Homo sapiens: one gene and its partners. The protein of the gene in region 2 purifies or fractionates together with the protein of the main gene of each other region. This does not show direct contact. Each region holds a gene or a part of one and is shown on either strand. Other genes may lie near its edges.

What was found. The genes of interacting proteins can lie anywhere in the genome.
Region 1: the proteins of CACNB3 (region 2) and TMOD1 purify together in Homo sapiens (affinity purification with mass spectrometry; one large-scale study listed by BioGRID and IntAct). This does not show direct contact.
Region 3: the proteins of CACNB3 (region 2) and ZYG11B purify together in Homo sapiens (affinity purification with mass spectrometry; one large-scale study listed by BioGRID and IntAct). This does not show direct contact.
Region 4: the proteins of CACNB3 (region 2) and ACBD3 purify together in Homo sapiens (co-immunoprecipitation; one large-scale study listed by IntAct). This does not show direct contact.

What each region holds. Positions count from the first base shown.
Region 1 is NC_000009.12:97,504,666-97,508,165, forward strand, and holds part of TMOD1 (tropomodulin-1), read left to right. Parts: intron 1-3,500. UniProt on the Homo sapiens protein: Blocks the elongation and depolymerization of the actin filaments at the pointed end. The Tmod/TM complex contributes to the formation of the short actin protofilament, which in turn defines the geometry of the membrane skeleton.
Region 2 is NC_000012.12:48,821,496-48,824,995, reverse strand, and holds part of CACNB3 (voltage-dependent L-type calcium channel subunit beta-3), read right to left. Parts: intron 1,653-3,500; coding exon 1,530-1,652; intron 1,316-1,529; coding exon 1,193-1,315; intron 739-1,192; coding exon 623-738; intron 328-622; coding exon 263-327; intron 48-262; coding exon 28-47; intron 1-27. UniProt on the Homo sapiens protein: Regulatory subunit of the voltage-gated calcium channel that gives rise to L-type calcium currents. Increases CACNA1B peak calcium current and shifts the voltage dependencies of channel activation and inactivation.
Region 3 is NC_000001.11:52,823,953-52,827,452, reverse strand, and holds the end of ZYG11B (protein zyg-11 homolog B), read right to left. Parts: 3' UTR 117-3,500; downstream 1-116. UniProt on the Homo sapiens protein: Serves as substrate adapter subunit in the E3 ubiquitin ligase complex ZYG11B-CUL2-Elongin BC. Acts to target substrates bearing N-terminal degrons for proteasomal degradation with the first four residues of substrates being the key recognition elements.
Region 4 is NC_000001.11:226,152,242-226,155,741, reverse strand, and holds part of ACBD3 (Golgi resident protein GCP60), read left to right. Parts: intron 1-764; exon of another isoform or gene 765-908; coding exon 909-1,095; exon of another isoform or gene 1,096-1,139; intron 1,140-3,122; coding exon 3,123-3,407; intron 3,408-3,500. UniProt on the Homo sapiens protein: Involved in the maintenance of Golgi structure by interacting with giantin, affecting protein transport between the endoplasmic reticulum and Golgi. Involved in hormone-induced steroid biosynthesis in testicular Leydig cells.

The sequences.
Region 1 (3,500 bases), on a different chromosome or scaffold from region 2:
GTATCTGCGATGGAGGATGGTGATGGGCTGTGAAGAGTGTTTTGACCCTGCTCTGGGGCCTCATAACCTTGGCTTATTTATTTCTGAAATGACATCATCTATCGATGACTCCTGCTGAGCCCGGTCGTAATGGCCTTTTCCAGTCAATGTTTTGACTTTTCAGTCTTACTAATGGACCAGCCAGGCTGCCAACATTTCTAAAGAGGCCAGTTTACTTTTCCCTTAAAGCCAGAACACCAGATAAATCAATTATTGGGCTGCTAGGAGCCATTATCAGTTTAAAACCACAGGCCTGTTTCTATGGAAAAGCATGAACCAGATAGCACAATTCCGGGCCATTTCCTCTCTTTTGTTTTGTTTTGTAAAATCTTCCTTTGGCTAATCATGATAGAACCTAATTCTCTTTGCTCTTAATGAGAGAATGAGCTCATTGGAGTCAACTTAGGACACGGTCTGGGAGGTTTTCTTTCGTGTTAGGTGTTGCTGGGTTTTTGTCTGATCTGAAAAACTAAACAAACTCAAGCATGCCTTTTGTTTCTCCTTCTCTTATGTCCTTTTGGTTTTCTTTCAGAGAAAAAAATGATTTGTGAAAGGGTTGGACATTACCATCTGTGAGGAGGAAAGAGGGAGGGAGAGGGAGACAAGGGCTTGCGTCCGTCCACGCATGTCCATCCCTGTCTCAGTTCATGTTCTCAGGGGCCCCAGCCTCAGGCCCCACTCACTCTGGGGCTTCAAGGGTGGTGACCCCAGGGCCGTTTCTAGCGATGATTCTGGAGGGTGATGAGTTGTGACCACTGCGTTGTTGCTCTCCATGCCCAAAGGAATGAAGGAAAGCAGAACTGCCTCTGGGCATCCTTCAGCCTCCTTCATAGACTCATCGCTGCTGCCCATCGCTTTGCTGTTGGTGCCTTGGTGCCACTCCTACCCCTATTCTCTTTCCACCGCACACTCTCACAGTCTCATTCACTCCCACGACTCCAGTCACCTCCCAACTCCCTAATTCTTGCATCAAGCTGGACTGTGCTCCTCATCTATAGACATCTCTGCCTCCTGATTCCTTTCTCTTCACCACCCCATTCATTTGCCCACCAAGTCCTGTCAATGCTACCTTCCTTAATTTCTCTTACATCCATTTCTATCGCCACATCCAGTACCCCAGTAAGGACTTCCTCTCTCCCCTAAGCTGCTCTCAGAGCCTCTTAAAGGTATTTCTGCCTCAAGTCATTCCTTCTTCCATGCTGCTCTTAAAAGATCTTCACCTGCGTCAATTGTCTCCCTTCAGGGACTCCCCATTTCCTAAGGGATAAAGACCAGATTCATTAGCCTCTAAGACCGGGCCTCAAGCTACTTCTCCAAAATCATCTCTAGGCACTCCTCCAAATTCTCTTTACCTTCTGGCCATGGCAAAAGCATGCTGTGCCTTCATGCCTCCCTGCCTTTCCCCTGCTGTTCTTTCGGCCTTCAGTGCTGTTCTCCCTCTTCTCAGTCTGTGAACTTGTAATCACCCTTAAAAGCAAAGTTCTTCATTGATTTACCTGTACCCCCACAGCCCCCTGTGCCAACTCAGAGCACCAGCCAGAGTGTGTTCTAAATGGAACCACCCAATGATGTATCTCTGTCTCTGGCTAGACTAAAAGCTCCCTGAGGACGAGGTTTCTGACTCATTTATTTCTGCTTCCCCATGTGCAGCTCAGAGCTTAATGTGTGACATAGTACAGGCACTTCAGGTTTTAATAAATGGCTGACCACCGAATGAATGAATGAATGCATGAAATAAATGAATGAAGGCTCTGTGATAACCAGGACAGTCACACAACACCAACCAGCATTTACAGCATGTTCTCCTACCCGACCAAATCATCAGCTCTATGAGGGCAGAGACCACACCTATTCTGCTCCCCACTGCCAGCTCTCCAGCTCCTATCAGCCCCATCATGATACGTAGCTAGTGTGAATCCAAGAGCTCATTTGAAATTCACAGTAACCCCATGAGGGAGGAACAGCAAGTATTGTTACCTACCTTTTGTAATGGGACAGTGAACCCTAGTAGGAATTGTCCCAGGTCATCCAATTCCAGAAAACTGAAGTGCTCTCCAGGGTTTGACAAACTTGAGAAATGAGTCTTCTTGTTTTATATCCGTGCTTCTCTAACTTTAATGTGCATTGAAATTACTTGGGATCTTTTCAGAAATGCAGATTCTGGTTCAGTAGGTATGAGATGGGGCTTGAGAGTCTGAGTTTCTAAAAAGCTCCTTGCTTCTAATAAGCTCTAATAAGTTGATTAGAAAATAAACTTAATAATTCCTAATAAGCTCTAATAAACATCTAGTCAGGTGGTGTTGACTAGTATCTACAAACCACCACATTTTGAACACCAAGGTGAGTGCTAGTTACCACAAAGCTTCCTCCTGGCCATTGCATTAAGATAGTGGATTTTTAAATCTACAAATGAATTCATTTGTGCCTTGGATCAAAATCAAGGGCTCTTTCTGGTCAGCAAACTTCTTGCAAGTTTGGATCTATGAGCACAAGATGGGTGCCTGGGCAGTGCTGGGATGGGAACCTGAGACACCTGAGACCCTGAGACATCAAAACCACTCAGAAGTGTGCAAAGTGAAGGTAAGAGAGAGGGAGACGTGAGGACAGACTTCCTCCATGCAAACCAAGAGAGATTTAAAAATTCAGAATGGATAGCAACATTGCACGCATTTGCTTATTATGGTTTTACATTGTATTCCACTTACAGCATTAAAAAGGCTTGAGATGGCTTAAAAAATAAACTACATGACCAATGCAACTAGTAAGAACAGAAATTCTAGAAAGACAGGCAGAAACCCTGAAGATTAAGATCACGAAACTCCTGGAGAATCTGATTAGAGCTTATGAATTCTTGCTCCACAAAAATGAATATATTCATATACACAACAATTTGCATATCATTTCAGTGGGTGTGTGATTCCCCTGAAGCCTATTCAAAAGTCCGGGTTAAGAGCACCCGATACAGAGAATAAAGAGAGAAAATTATGCCAGTGCCCTGGCTGAAGATGACAACTGTATTTGGACACTCAAATTGGCTCTGAGATGACTCATGGCAGCCAAGGGGAAAGGGGGGGACAAGATGAATGGGAGGACTCTTGGTGTCTGATAGTAGAAGGAAGAACATCAATCAGTCTTTCAGGAGAGGGAACTATTTTCTTAACCCCAATCCTCAGTATATTGTCAAGACAGGCCACTAGACAGAGGGCATAGTAGTTAAGGCGGACTCCGGATCAGTCTGCACAAGGCCAGGGAACCTAGGAGCAATGAAGGGCAGACTCAAATCCTTCATTAGTCCTTTGGGGGGCCTTAAATAGCAATTGACACATAATGAAACACAATCTATCTTCCTGATTCACACACACACACACACACACACACACACACACACACACACACACACAGACTCTGGAGACCACCTTGCTGGATTCAAATCCAAGGTCTACTAGTTACTGGCTCTGTAA
Region 2 (3,500 bases):
CCAGCCCAGGTCCCTTCCTTGACTCACCTGCTTTTGCTTCTGCTTGGCTTTTTGGAAAAGGAAATACAAGATTAAAGTTGGTGAAGGGGGAAAGGTCCCTGGGGGCATGGTATCCCCGTCCCCAGGGGAGATACTGGCTTCTCCCCACCCCTTCCAATCCCTCCACAAACCCTTCCCACACAGTTCACTTGGGCAGGATCCCCTCTTTCCCTGTGTCTTAGCTACCCACCTACCCAAAATGGGTGGGTTGGGGGGAGGCTACCTAGAGATGGCGGAGGGGAGCGTCGGTTGCCAATGTCACTCAGGCTGGAAGGGTTCCCAGATCTCCTGAGAAGAAAGGGAGGTGAAAGAGAGAGAGAGAAGAATGTGTCTCTGTGTATGTATGTTCTATGCATTATTTAATAATTGTACACAATTCCATATGCTTTATCTAGTGAGACAGGTGTACATGCAATATGTGTGTGTGTTTGTAGATTTGTTTAGTGTTGAGTGTGTAGAGCTGGGCATACGTGTATGTGTATTTCAGGGGGATATGCATGTGTATGGCATGCATGGTGACGTGTCCTGTGGGTACAGTGCAAGTGTTTGGGGTGTGTTTACTGACTCATGGCCCAACTCTCACCTGGCCTTCTGCTCCTGTTTGAGCCGGATGCTCTCCAGGCGCTGGGGGCTGGGGATGAAGGCGATGTCCCCGCCCTCTTTCACTAGCCGCCCGATCCACCAGTCATTGCTGTACTTCTGGGGGCAGGTGGAGCAGGAAGGGGTGGTGAGAGAAGCGCCCCGCCCCAGTCCTGGCTCTTCAATGTGAAGGAGCCAGCGAGGCAGTCACTGAGCTGGTCTGAGGAATGCAATGCAAGGGGCGGTGGGCAGAAGGGGCCAGGGGAAAGGACAGCCAAGTTCGGGCCACCCAGGATTTCTGAGTGAGGCATTGCAGCTGTCACAGGGGACCTCGGAGGCAGCTAATCTAACTGCTCACTTGACAGACATGGAGACTGATGCCCAAGCCAGGTCTCAGAAGGATGGAGACCCTGGGGATGAGATCTTAGATATGAGGGGTGGACAGGTGTGTGTTAAGGAGAAGAGCTGATTAGCTTGGGGAATTAGACTGAGGATTCAAGTCAGAAGCATTAGGATCTGGAGCAAGAGCAAGAAAATGAAGTTAGAGGCTTCTGGAAGTAGGGGGGTCGATCACCTCTTTAATGTGCAGAAAATCTTTGGCCTCAAAGTTGACTCCAGAGCCCTGGACTGGGCACTCCTCATCCAGTACGCCACAGTAGCTGACATTGGTCCTCACCGCAAATGCCACAGGTTTGTGCTGGAGAATTTGCCCATTAGTGCAAGTGAGAGAAGGCTCGAAGCACCCCTTCCAGCTTCAGTGCCCCAACAGCAGAAGGCCGTGGCCTCTGCCCATCACACACACCCTCTCACACTCAAGGACATCCTGCCCAAGGACCCCTTGGGACTTAGGACCGAGTGCAGGTTTCCACCTAGCTTGGCCTCCTGTCTTGCCCCATGCCCAGAAAGTATACCTTGGCCCTTTCGAGCTGCTGCTGAGCCTGGCTCTCTACTTCACGCCGGGCACTCTCCCGGTCCTCCTCCAGGGAGACGTCTGAGTCCAGAGATGGGCGGCTGGTGTAGGAGTCGGCTGAACCCTGGGTTGGGAAAGAGGCTGTGACTCCCAGGCTCCGGCATGAAGGATGCCATGGAGGCACCCTCCTCACCTTACAGTGTTGCCTCTATTGCCCCCAGTTTCTCCATCTCCAAGGGGATAGCTGGGTCCCTATGGCCCCTCCTATCCCCTGAGAAGGGCCCCAGTGCCTCTGAGGCTACAGGAAAGCTGGCCCAATCCATAGGTGCAAAGATCTGGGCCCCTCCTCCCCCAAGCCTATTAATACTGCAGCTTTGAATAGAGCCTTCACTTCTCTCTTTCCTCCCTTTTCTCCCCTCTAACATGTCCTCTGAGCCGAGGGAAGGGAGGTGTGCTGAAGATGATGTATTAGAGATGATTCTGGATCCAGGAGACCCAGCCCTCTTGTTCATAGCAGCCTGCAAAGCAGCCTGGACATCATCCCTTTAAGATGCCTGTCAGGAGTCCAGCCAGCCGCAACAGTCAAGAGATGCTGGTTGGCACAGCACCAGTCCTGAATGTGGGGATCCAGCCATCTGCCCCCTAAGATTCCACTTTCCCTACTCCAACAAGGCTCTGAAGGCTCCCAAATGGTGAGCCCTTACCCTTCCAGGGTGAAGAGGAGGACACAAAGCTGCCAGCTCCTAGAAGTTACCTCCCCTTTGCTCTCCCCACCCCCTACTTTTCTTCCTTCCACACCTGCTGGGGCAACTAGCCAGGTGTGGGCAGCAAACAAGACACAGACCAAGAACACAAAGCTGTCTCCCTGGGTGCAGGTGAGGCTGGGCCACACCTACCACTTGGCCTACATCTCCCTAGTCCTTTCCCAGGCCCAGGGGACATCAGCCCTAGAAGAAGGCTATGCTAGTGCCAGGCAACCTAGCTACGGAGCAGGACCCCGGGGATGTGGGGAGGGGGTAACATGAGCAAGGAGAGTCTCTGAGTCCTGCCCATAGGAAAGGTCTTGGGCAATGAGGGTGCATTTGACGGTCACAGAGTTCAGCCTCAAGACCATGAGGGAGAGGCACAAATGAGTAAGGGACGCTGGACTTTGAGACAAGAGCCCAGAGGTTACAATGTCTGGGTTTCCTCCTCTGTCAGGGAAAGGGAGTCTTTCGTTTCCTGCCTCAGTTTTCCCTCTCTGTGGGGAGAAGCCTCAAGTGATACTTCCCACAATTCTGAGATGCCAGTGGCAGAGAGAAGGGATAAGCCTAGATAAGGGGTTCATGCAGGAGTGTGTGTGTGTATAGGGGAAGGGGCTTTAGAATGTCCTCAGGTAGAGGAACATTCTCTCAAGCTCACTGGGCATGACCACCTACGGAAGGCAGCAGAGGCCAGACTCTCAGAGAAGAAGGCAAAATCACATACCTGCTGTCAACCATGCCCTCTACCCCTACCCTGCCGTGGGCAAGAGGGCTGTTCAGCTAGGGGTCAGCCCAGGCTCTCGAGCCTTAGGCTAAAGACAGTGTCTATAGTAGACCAAAGGCCTGAAGATAGCACAAGGGGGAAAGATCTTTCATTTTACAGAAGAGTAGTCCGCCGACTGTTCCTCATCTCTCCTGAGAACAAAATGAGGCTGGATGGCAGCAGGATAAGTGGGGGATGAACCCCAGAAATAATCTTTGCACAGGGTGAGGGACCTCCTTCCCAGGGGTCTTAGGACACAAGAGAAACCTCTGTGGGATGTTGGTGTCTGAAGCAACCAGACAGGGGCCAACAGACTGGGAGGCAGGAGGCAAGGCAGATGACCACTCGCTTTGGTACAGATACATTGGGTACCTCCCAGAGGCCCAGAACTGTGCTAAAAGAGGAGTCTGACCTTTTCTGCCTGTGCTCCAGGCTCTCAGCCCAATTTAGTAATCTTTATTTTTAT
Region 3 (3,500 bases), on a different chromosome or scaffold from region 2:
AGCCTTTTTCAGAAAGCAATCATTACAAGTGGATCACTAAGGAATTTGAAGTTTGCATTAATATTAACTTTTAAAGCCAAATGTCTAGAATAAAAGTAGACAAGACACACTTTACATAAAATTTATAACATTTATTTAGGCAAAAAAAATCCCAAAACAAAAATCTGTACACACAACATTAATACTTAAGTGATGTCCTGATTTAAAATACAGCATGATTCATGTACAGAATACTCCCATTCATCTGGCCATAGTGAGAACAGTGCCTTCAGTCCAGATAATTGAGAGTCTTTGAAATATACACACTTTCCAATGAATTTTTTATATCCTTAGAAAGGAGTTAAACTGTTCTATCAGAATTCAAACAAAAGATAACTTCTCTCACACTCATAAGTCAGTGAGAATTTGACAGTGGGAATTCTACAAAAGTCAGGGATTTCTTAATTTTTGTTGTTGCAGATTATCTGAGAGTATAAAGTTTTTAAGGAAAAACAATGCTCTTAAGATCCTGCTTTTAATAAAGTGTCTCAGCTTTCATTAGCTAAGTAGCTTCTTCCTTCTAGGCTGCTTAAAATAAGCTTAAAAGGACCCAATTTGAACAGTTTTTCCCAAAATAAGTCCAAAATTAAACACATAACATTAATAAAATAGATTGATGATTTCCCACAAAATAATTTTGATAAACTTGGATTTTGGAAATATTCTTAATGGCCATTCTGTCTAGCTGTAAAGTTAGGCTGTGCTATCCAAAAGAGCTTTACTTTAGAGTCATGAGAAGCAGCACTGATCTTTGCAAAACTTACCCCAAAAAATGGGGAGAGAGAAAAACAGGAAGAAAAGTCTCTTTCTTAGGCTACCAGTCAGTTAACAAAGTATCTTAGATTAAGATTTGGAAACCAAAGAATGCATAATTAGGAGTGTACCATATCATGCAAAGTCTATGAAATACTAAATAAGGTAAAACAGTTAATCATTTAAAGCACGATGAGCAAATTCTCTTATCATACGGCTATTCTCATCACCGGACGAAGGTTGGTTTTGCATTATTCCTAAAATAAAACAGTTCGTGAGTGAATACTGCAAATTAAAAACTGTCAAAACACAGCAAATGATAAGGACTAAACATCCATTATCCACAAACTCATTTGAAACTACTACCATGGATTTGAGAGGGAAACCAAAAGTTTGCAAACCTCTCTGGGAGCTGTGTCAAAGTTAGTATTCTGAAGCCCTAGCAATACAAAGTCCCCAAATAAGTAAAATACAGATAAAAGTGGAAGAGCCTACATCAGCTCAAAGTAACATACTTCCTTTAACTTATGCCTTCAGTTTAATAATACTGTTTATACCACTACATTGTATAATAACGAAATAATGTAAACATACCATTAGAGGGCAGGAGAGGGATGGGTTTCACCATATACAAAGAGTTTAAGTTTGTTTTCCCTGCTACCTCTTTTTAACCTTGGGTGCAGCTGTACATTGTTCTATAGGGGTATTGTTCTATAGTTTAAAAACACTAAGCTAAATCTCTGGTAAATTAACCTAATTTAGCACATAAAATATGTTTTCATTAAACATATGGGATAGGAAGGGATAGGAAGATGGCCCGGTGTTATGTTGATGCATGGCATAATTAAAAACACAGCTAAGACCAGGCACTGTGGCTCATGCCTGTGATTCCAGCACTTTGGGAAGCTGAGGTGGGAAAGTCACTTGAGGCCAGGAGTTCGAGACCAGCCTGGGCAACACAGTGAGACACCATCTCTCTCTCTCGCTTTTTTTTTTTTTTTTTTTTTAACATAGCCAAATAAGATGACTGGGGAGAAAACAGATTAACACAAAAGGTCCCACCTGTAAGGGCAACTTCCTAAAGCTAGATATATAGAACCGATGGTTTTAAACATAAAACTTGATTATGTAGAAGTTTGCAAATGAAATATATCACGAAAGCAAATTCCCATGCAGCTTTATTCACCTCAACCATGTGTAATCTACTTAAGGTGACTAGTGCCACTATAAGGCATTACTGTCCCAGGGTGACAAGAAGCAATATTTATACTCAATTCCTGAAACTGGGGGTCTGATATGCTTTTTAAAAATCCTAAACTAACTAATATCAGTAGCCATGGAGTCATCGGCTTGAGGGTAAACTAATCCCTTATACCACTTGATTTATTTTATTAATTAGTTAATAATGCAGTTAATTTTCAACTGCAAAAAGAAAAAATTATTTTGTGGAGTAGAAAGACCACAGCAATAATTACTTGATGCAAAAAATAAGACACCTTAATTGTATTTGCTCAAATCTGTTGTCTTAATGATACCAATATGTATCATTATAATCTATTTTTTAAAAATTTTCCTCATTATGCCCTAGAACATCATTATACTCTAAAAAGTCAAATTCCATTTCCTTTAGATTTCCTTAATGTTGCTTGTGGACTGATGTAGTGATATTTTACATTGGAGCCCACCAATGATTTGAACAATGAGTGGTTCAACCCTAGTCTAAATTGTGCTTGAAACAGCACCTCTAGCCACTGAGAGATAACACTCAAAGGCACCAATAACAGTTATATTCTAGTCTACAGGTGCAAAAAGGAGGCCTTGTAGATTCTAACTATAGATACTGGCTACTTATGCCTCATAATTCCAATACATACATCCACTGTATTTTAGCCAGATTCAGGACCTTACACACAATTCTGTGCCTTAATTCTATACGCAATTTTAGGAACCATCCCAACTGCAAAGGCACTCAAATTTTTATATATTTGGGATGTAATAAATTATTATGCTTTTTTTTTTTTTGAGACGGAGTCTTACTCTGTCACCCAGGCTGGAGTGCAGTGGCATGATATTGGCTCACCACAACCTCCACCTCCCAGGTTCAAGCGATTCTCCTGCCTCAGCCTCCTGAGTAGCTGGGATTACAGGTGCCCGCCACCACACCCAGCTAATTTTTGTATATTTAGTAGAGACAGGGTTTCACCATTTGGGCCAGGCTGGTCTTGAACTCCTGACCTTGTGATCCACCCACCTCGGCCTCCCAAAGTGCTGGGATTACAGGCGTGAGCCACCGCGCCCGGCCTATTATGCTTTTAAGACTCAGAAGTATCTGGCCACTACTGATGTTTACAAAGTAGGAAATTTAGCCTGTAGTTCCAGCTACTCCAGAGGCTGAGGGGGTAAGATCACATAAGCCCAAGAGGCTGCAGTGAGGTATGATTGTGCCACTGCACTCCAGCTTGGGCGACAGAGTGAAACTCTGTCTCTACAAAAAGAAAAAAAGTAGGAAGTTTAATTTTTTTTTTCCCCAGAGTCTCACTCCGTTGTCCAGGCTGGAGTGCAGTGGCACGATCTTAGCTCACTGCAACCTCCACTTCCTGGGTTCAAGTGATTCTCGTGCCTCAGCCTCCCGAGTAGCTGGGACTATAGGCGTGCAAAAAAGCCACCATGCCCAGCTAGTTTTTGTATTTTTAGTAGAGACGGGGTTT
Region 4 (3,500 bases), on a different chromosome or scaffold from region 2:
TTTCATTGTGATCATAATTTTTCCCTGAAGTTTTAATTTATTGACTTTTTGGGGTCAATTATGTTAGAATAAATTGTCCATATTTGATTTTTTTATTGCTTTGGGGGCCCATACCAGATTTTGCCAATTATAGCTTCTGCCTTTGTGAATTTTCTTCTGTGACTATTCCCACCAAGTTTAATTTTTCTAATTCAAATTTTGTGTATTTAAAGTTTATCAAGATTTTTTTCTTCCATCAATTTCAAGAGCACATTACTGTGTTCAATTTTTGCCTTTAATAGTTTTATTTTGGGTTGATTATTTCTACTTTTTTTTTTTTTTTTTGAGATGGAGTTTCGCTTTTGTTGCTCAGGCTGGAATGCAATGGCACGATCTCAGGTCACTGCAACCTCCGCCTCCCGAGTTCAAGCGATTCTCCTGCCTCAGCCTCCCAAGTAGCTGGGATTACAGGCGTGTGCTGCCATGCCCAGCTAATTTTGTATTTTTAGTAGAGACGGGGTTTCACCATGTTGGTCAGGCTGGTCTTGAGCTCCTGACCTCAAATGATCCACCCACCTCCGCCTCTCAAAGTGCTGGGATTACAGGTGTGAGCCACTTTGGCTGGCCTTACTTTCATTTTTCCTGGTTAGTTTTTATGGTGATTCTCAGATCACAGAAATGTGAGCCTTAGTTGCAGGTTTTTGTCCACATTAATTTTTATTGATTTTTTATTATTTTTAGCTGTCAGTTTGATATTGTACTAATAATATTCATTATAGACAGGATAAAAACTGATAAAAATTTATTAGTAATTTCTTGAGCATAGCACTTTGGTAGGGCAAAAGCATGGTATCAGATGTACTCCAGGGCAGATGTCTTATTTGCTAGCCTTCCTGGTCAGTGTGTCTTCACTTTCTCTTGGTTTGTAGGCAGCATTACAGAAACAACAGGAAGTAGTAGTGGCTGGGTCTTCCTTGCCTACATCATCAAAAGTGAATGCAACTGTACCAAGTAATATGATGTCAGTTAATGGACAGGCCAAAACACACACTGACAGCTCCGAAAAAGAACTGGAACCAGAAGCTGCAGAAGAAGCCCTGGAGAATGGACCAAAAGGTAGGTTTTGCATATGTGTTTGTCCAGATGTCATAATTCCAAATCTGTGAAAGGCAAAAGTCATGAAGTCAGGTTATAATTAGCTTTTGAGAACAATTACATATTTGTGAGAGTTGAACATTTTTTTACTCTTTTTAGTCTGAATCTAATGCTCTGGTGACTCATAGACCAGTGTAGAAGAGCAAATCAGATGTCTTTGGACACTTTTAAGACAAAAGTTATGTTTTGTCATATATATATATATAAATTATCTATTGCTGCATAACAAATTACAGGCTGGGCGCAGTGGCTCATACCTGTAATCCCAGCACTCTGGGAGGCTGAGGCAGGAAGATCACTTGAGCCCAAGAGTTTGAGGCTGCAGTGAACTATGATTCCGCCTGCCTGGGTGACAAAGCAAGACTGTCTCTCAAAAAAAAAACAAACAAAAATTAATTACACCTAAATTTAGTAGCTTGAAATAACAATAAACATTTATTACTATCTTGTACAGCTTCAGTGGGTCAGGGTTTCAGGAGCAGTTTAGCTGAATGGCTCTGACTTAGGCTCCCTCATGAGATTGCAGTCAAGATGTTGATGCCAGGACTAGAAGATCTGCTTCCAAAATGGTTCCCTCACATGGCTGGCTTTTGGCTGGAAGCTCAATTCCTGGCCCCATGAAGCCTCTCCATAGGGCTTCTTGAGGGTCCTCAAAACAGTTACTGGCTTCCCCTAGCAGAAGTGGCAGTGTCTTTTATGCCTTGACTTTGGAACTCCCACCATATTCTGTTGGTCACACATACCAATCCTTATATATTGTGGGTGGTGACCTCACAAGTGCATGAAGACCCAGAGGTGAGAATCTCTGGGGACCATCTTGGAGGCTGGCTACCATAGAAATAGATATATTTTTGAGACTAATGTATCATGTTGCCTAGAAAATAACTGCATTTTCAAAGCTCTACTAGCTTTCCATGGGCAGCTCATTTGTTCATTCAGCAATTAGTTGAAGGTTTCCTGAGTGCTAGGAGTACAGTGGTGAGGCAAAATAACACACAGAAAATGTAGATTGTAGCTGTGATAAGTACGGTGATGGAGAGAGAGGTACATTATCTTTGAGAGAATGTAAAACAGGGAAGTGTGACCTAGTCAGAGAGGCCACCAGAGGCTTCCCAGAGGAAGGGACAATTGACCTGAGATATCTGAAGCAAGAGGAGTTAACTAAGTAAGGAGGAAGAGGAGAGCATTTCAGTGACAGTGGTCAGGGATGGTGGTATGGTTCATAAGAAATTTGGTTTCAGAGATCTTCCTTGTCTGTTTAGAACAAGTAATAATTGCTTCAGAAAAGGCTTTGAAATCCCTTGGTTTACTGCCCCCTTCCCTTTTTTTTTCTTATCAAGGGATTATACTAGCATCTTCAAATGAGAGAAAATATTTCAAAGGCTCTGTGACTAACTTTGAAAAACTTATTGCATAGTCAAGTGCACATAGGTACTGCTCAGTAACAAGACTTTACCCCTTTTTCTCAGTCCCTAGTGGTTCTAATCCTGTCCGAGTTTTTGTTTCTTTGAGCTCCTTTAGAATAGCCCCTAGAACTTTGGGATAGTTGGAGGTGAAGAATTTTTCAACAGACAGGCTGAAGTCAAAGTCCAGCTTTCTTTGTTCACATCCACAAGAGTAATTTATTCCTAAAGCCAGAATCTCTCTTCCTTGCTAGAATATTTCCCTCACTCCAGCTGGGGCCTTCCCAAGGTCATTCTTGAATCCCCATAGAGGGAGTGTTGAAAAAAATTCGTTTCTAAAATTGTGGGCTGCCATTGTTACTTGAAGAAGTACGATGACCTCTGAGTGCCTGCAACATTGTTAAACATAGTAATCTGGAGAGACTCCCATGGGGAGGCTTTTTTATTCCTCCAAGTCCTTGATCTAAGCTAGACCATATTGTACTTGGTGCCTGAGTACAACTGATCAGGTAGTGCTATGAAAATGTGGCTACCTGCAGGGTGAAGGCTCTTTTTCTTTAGCTTTTTAATACCTATTGCCTTTAGAATCTCTTCCAGTAATAGCAGCTCCATCCATGTGGACACGACCTCAGATCAAAGACTTCAAAGAGAAGATTCAGCAGGATGCAGATTCCGTGATTACAGTGGGCCGAGGAGAAGTGGTCACTGTTCGAGTACCCACCCATGAAGAAGGATCATATCTCTTTTGGGAATTTGCCACAGACAATTATGACATTGGGTTTGGGGTGTATTTTGAATGGACAGACTCTCCAAACACTGCTGTCAGCGTGCATGTCAGTGAGTCCAGCGATGACGACGAGGAGGAAGAAGGTAGAACCCTTGGTCCATATTCAGTAGCTGCTGGGTTGTGTGTTGGCAGAAATGGTACATAGTTCAGGTGTCACCCAGCCTTATGCTTCCTGA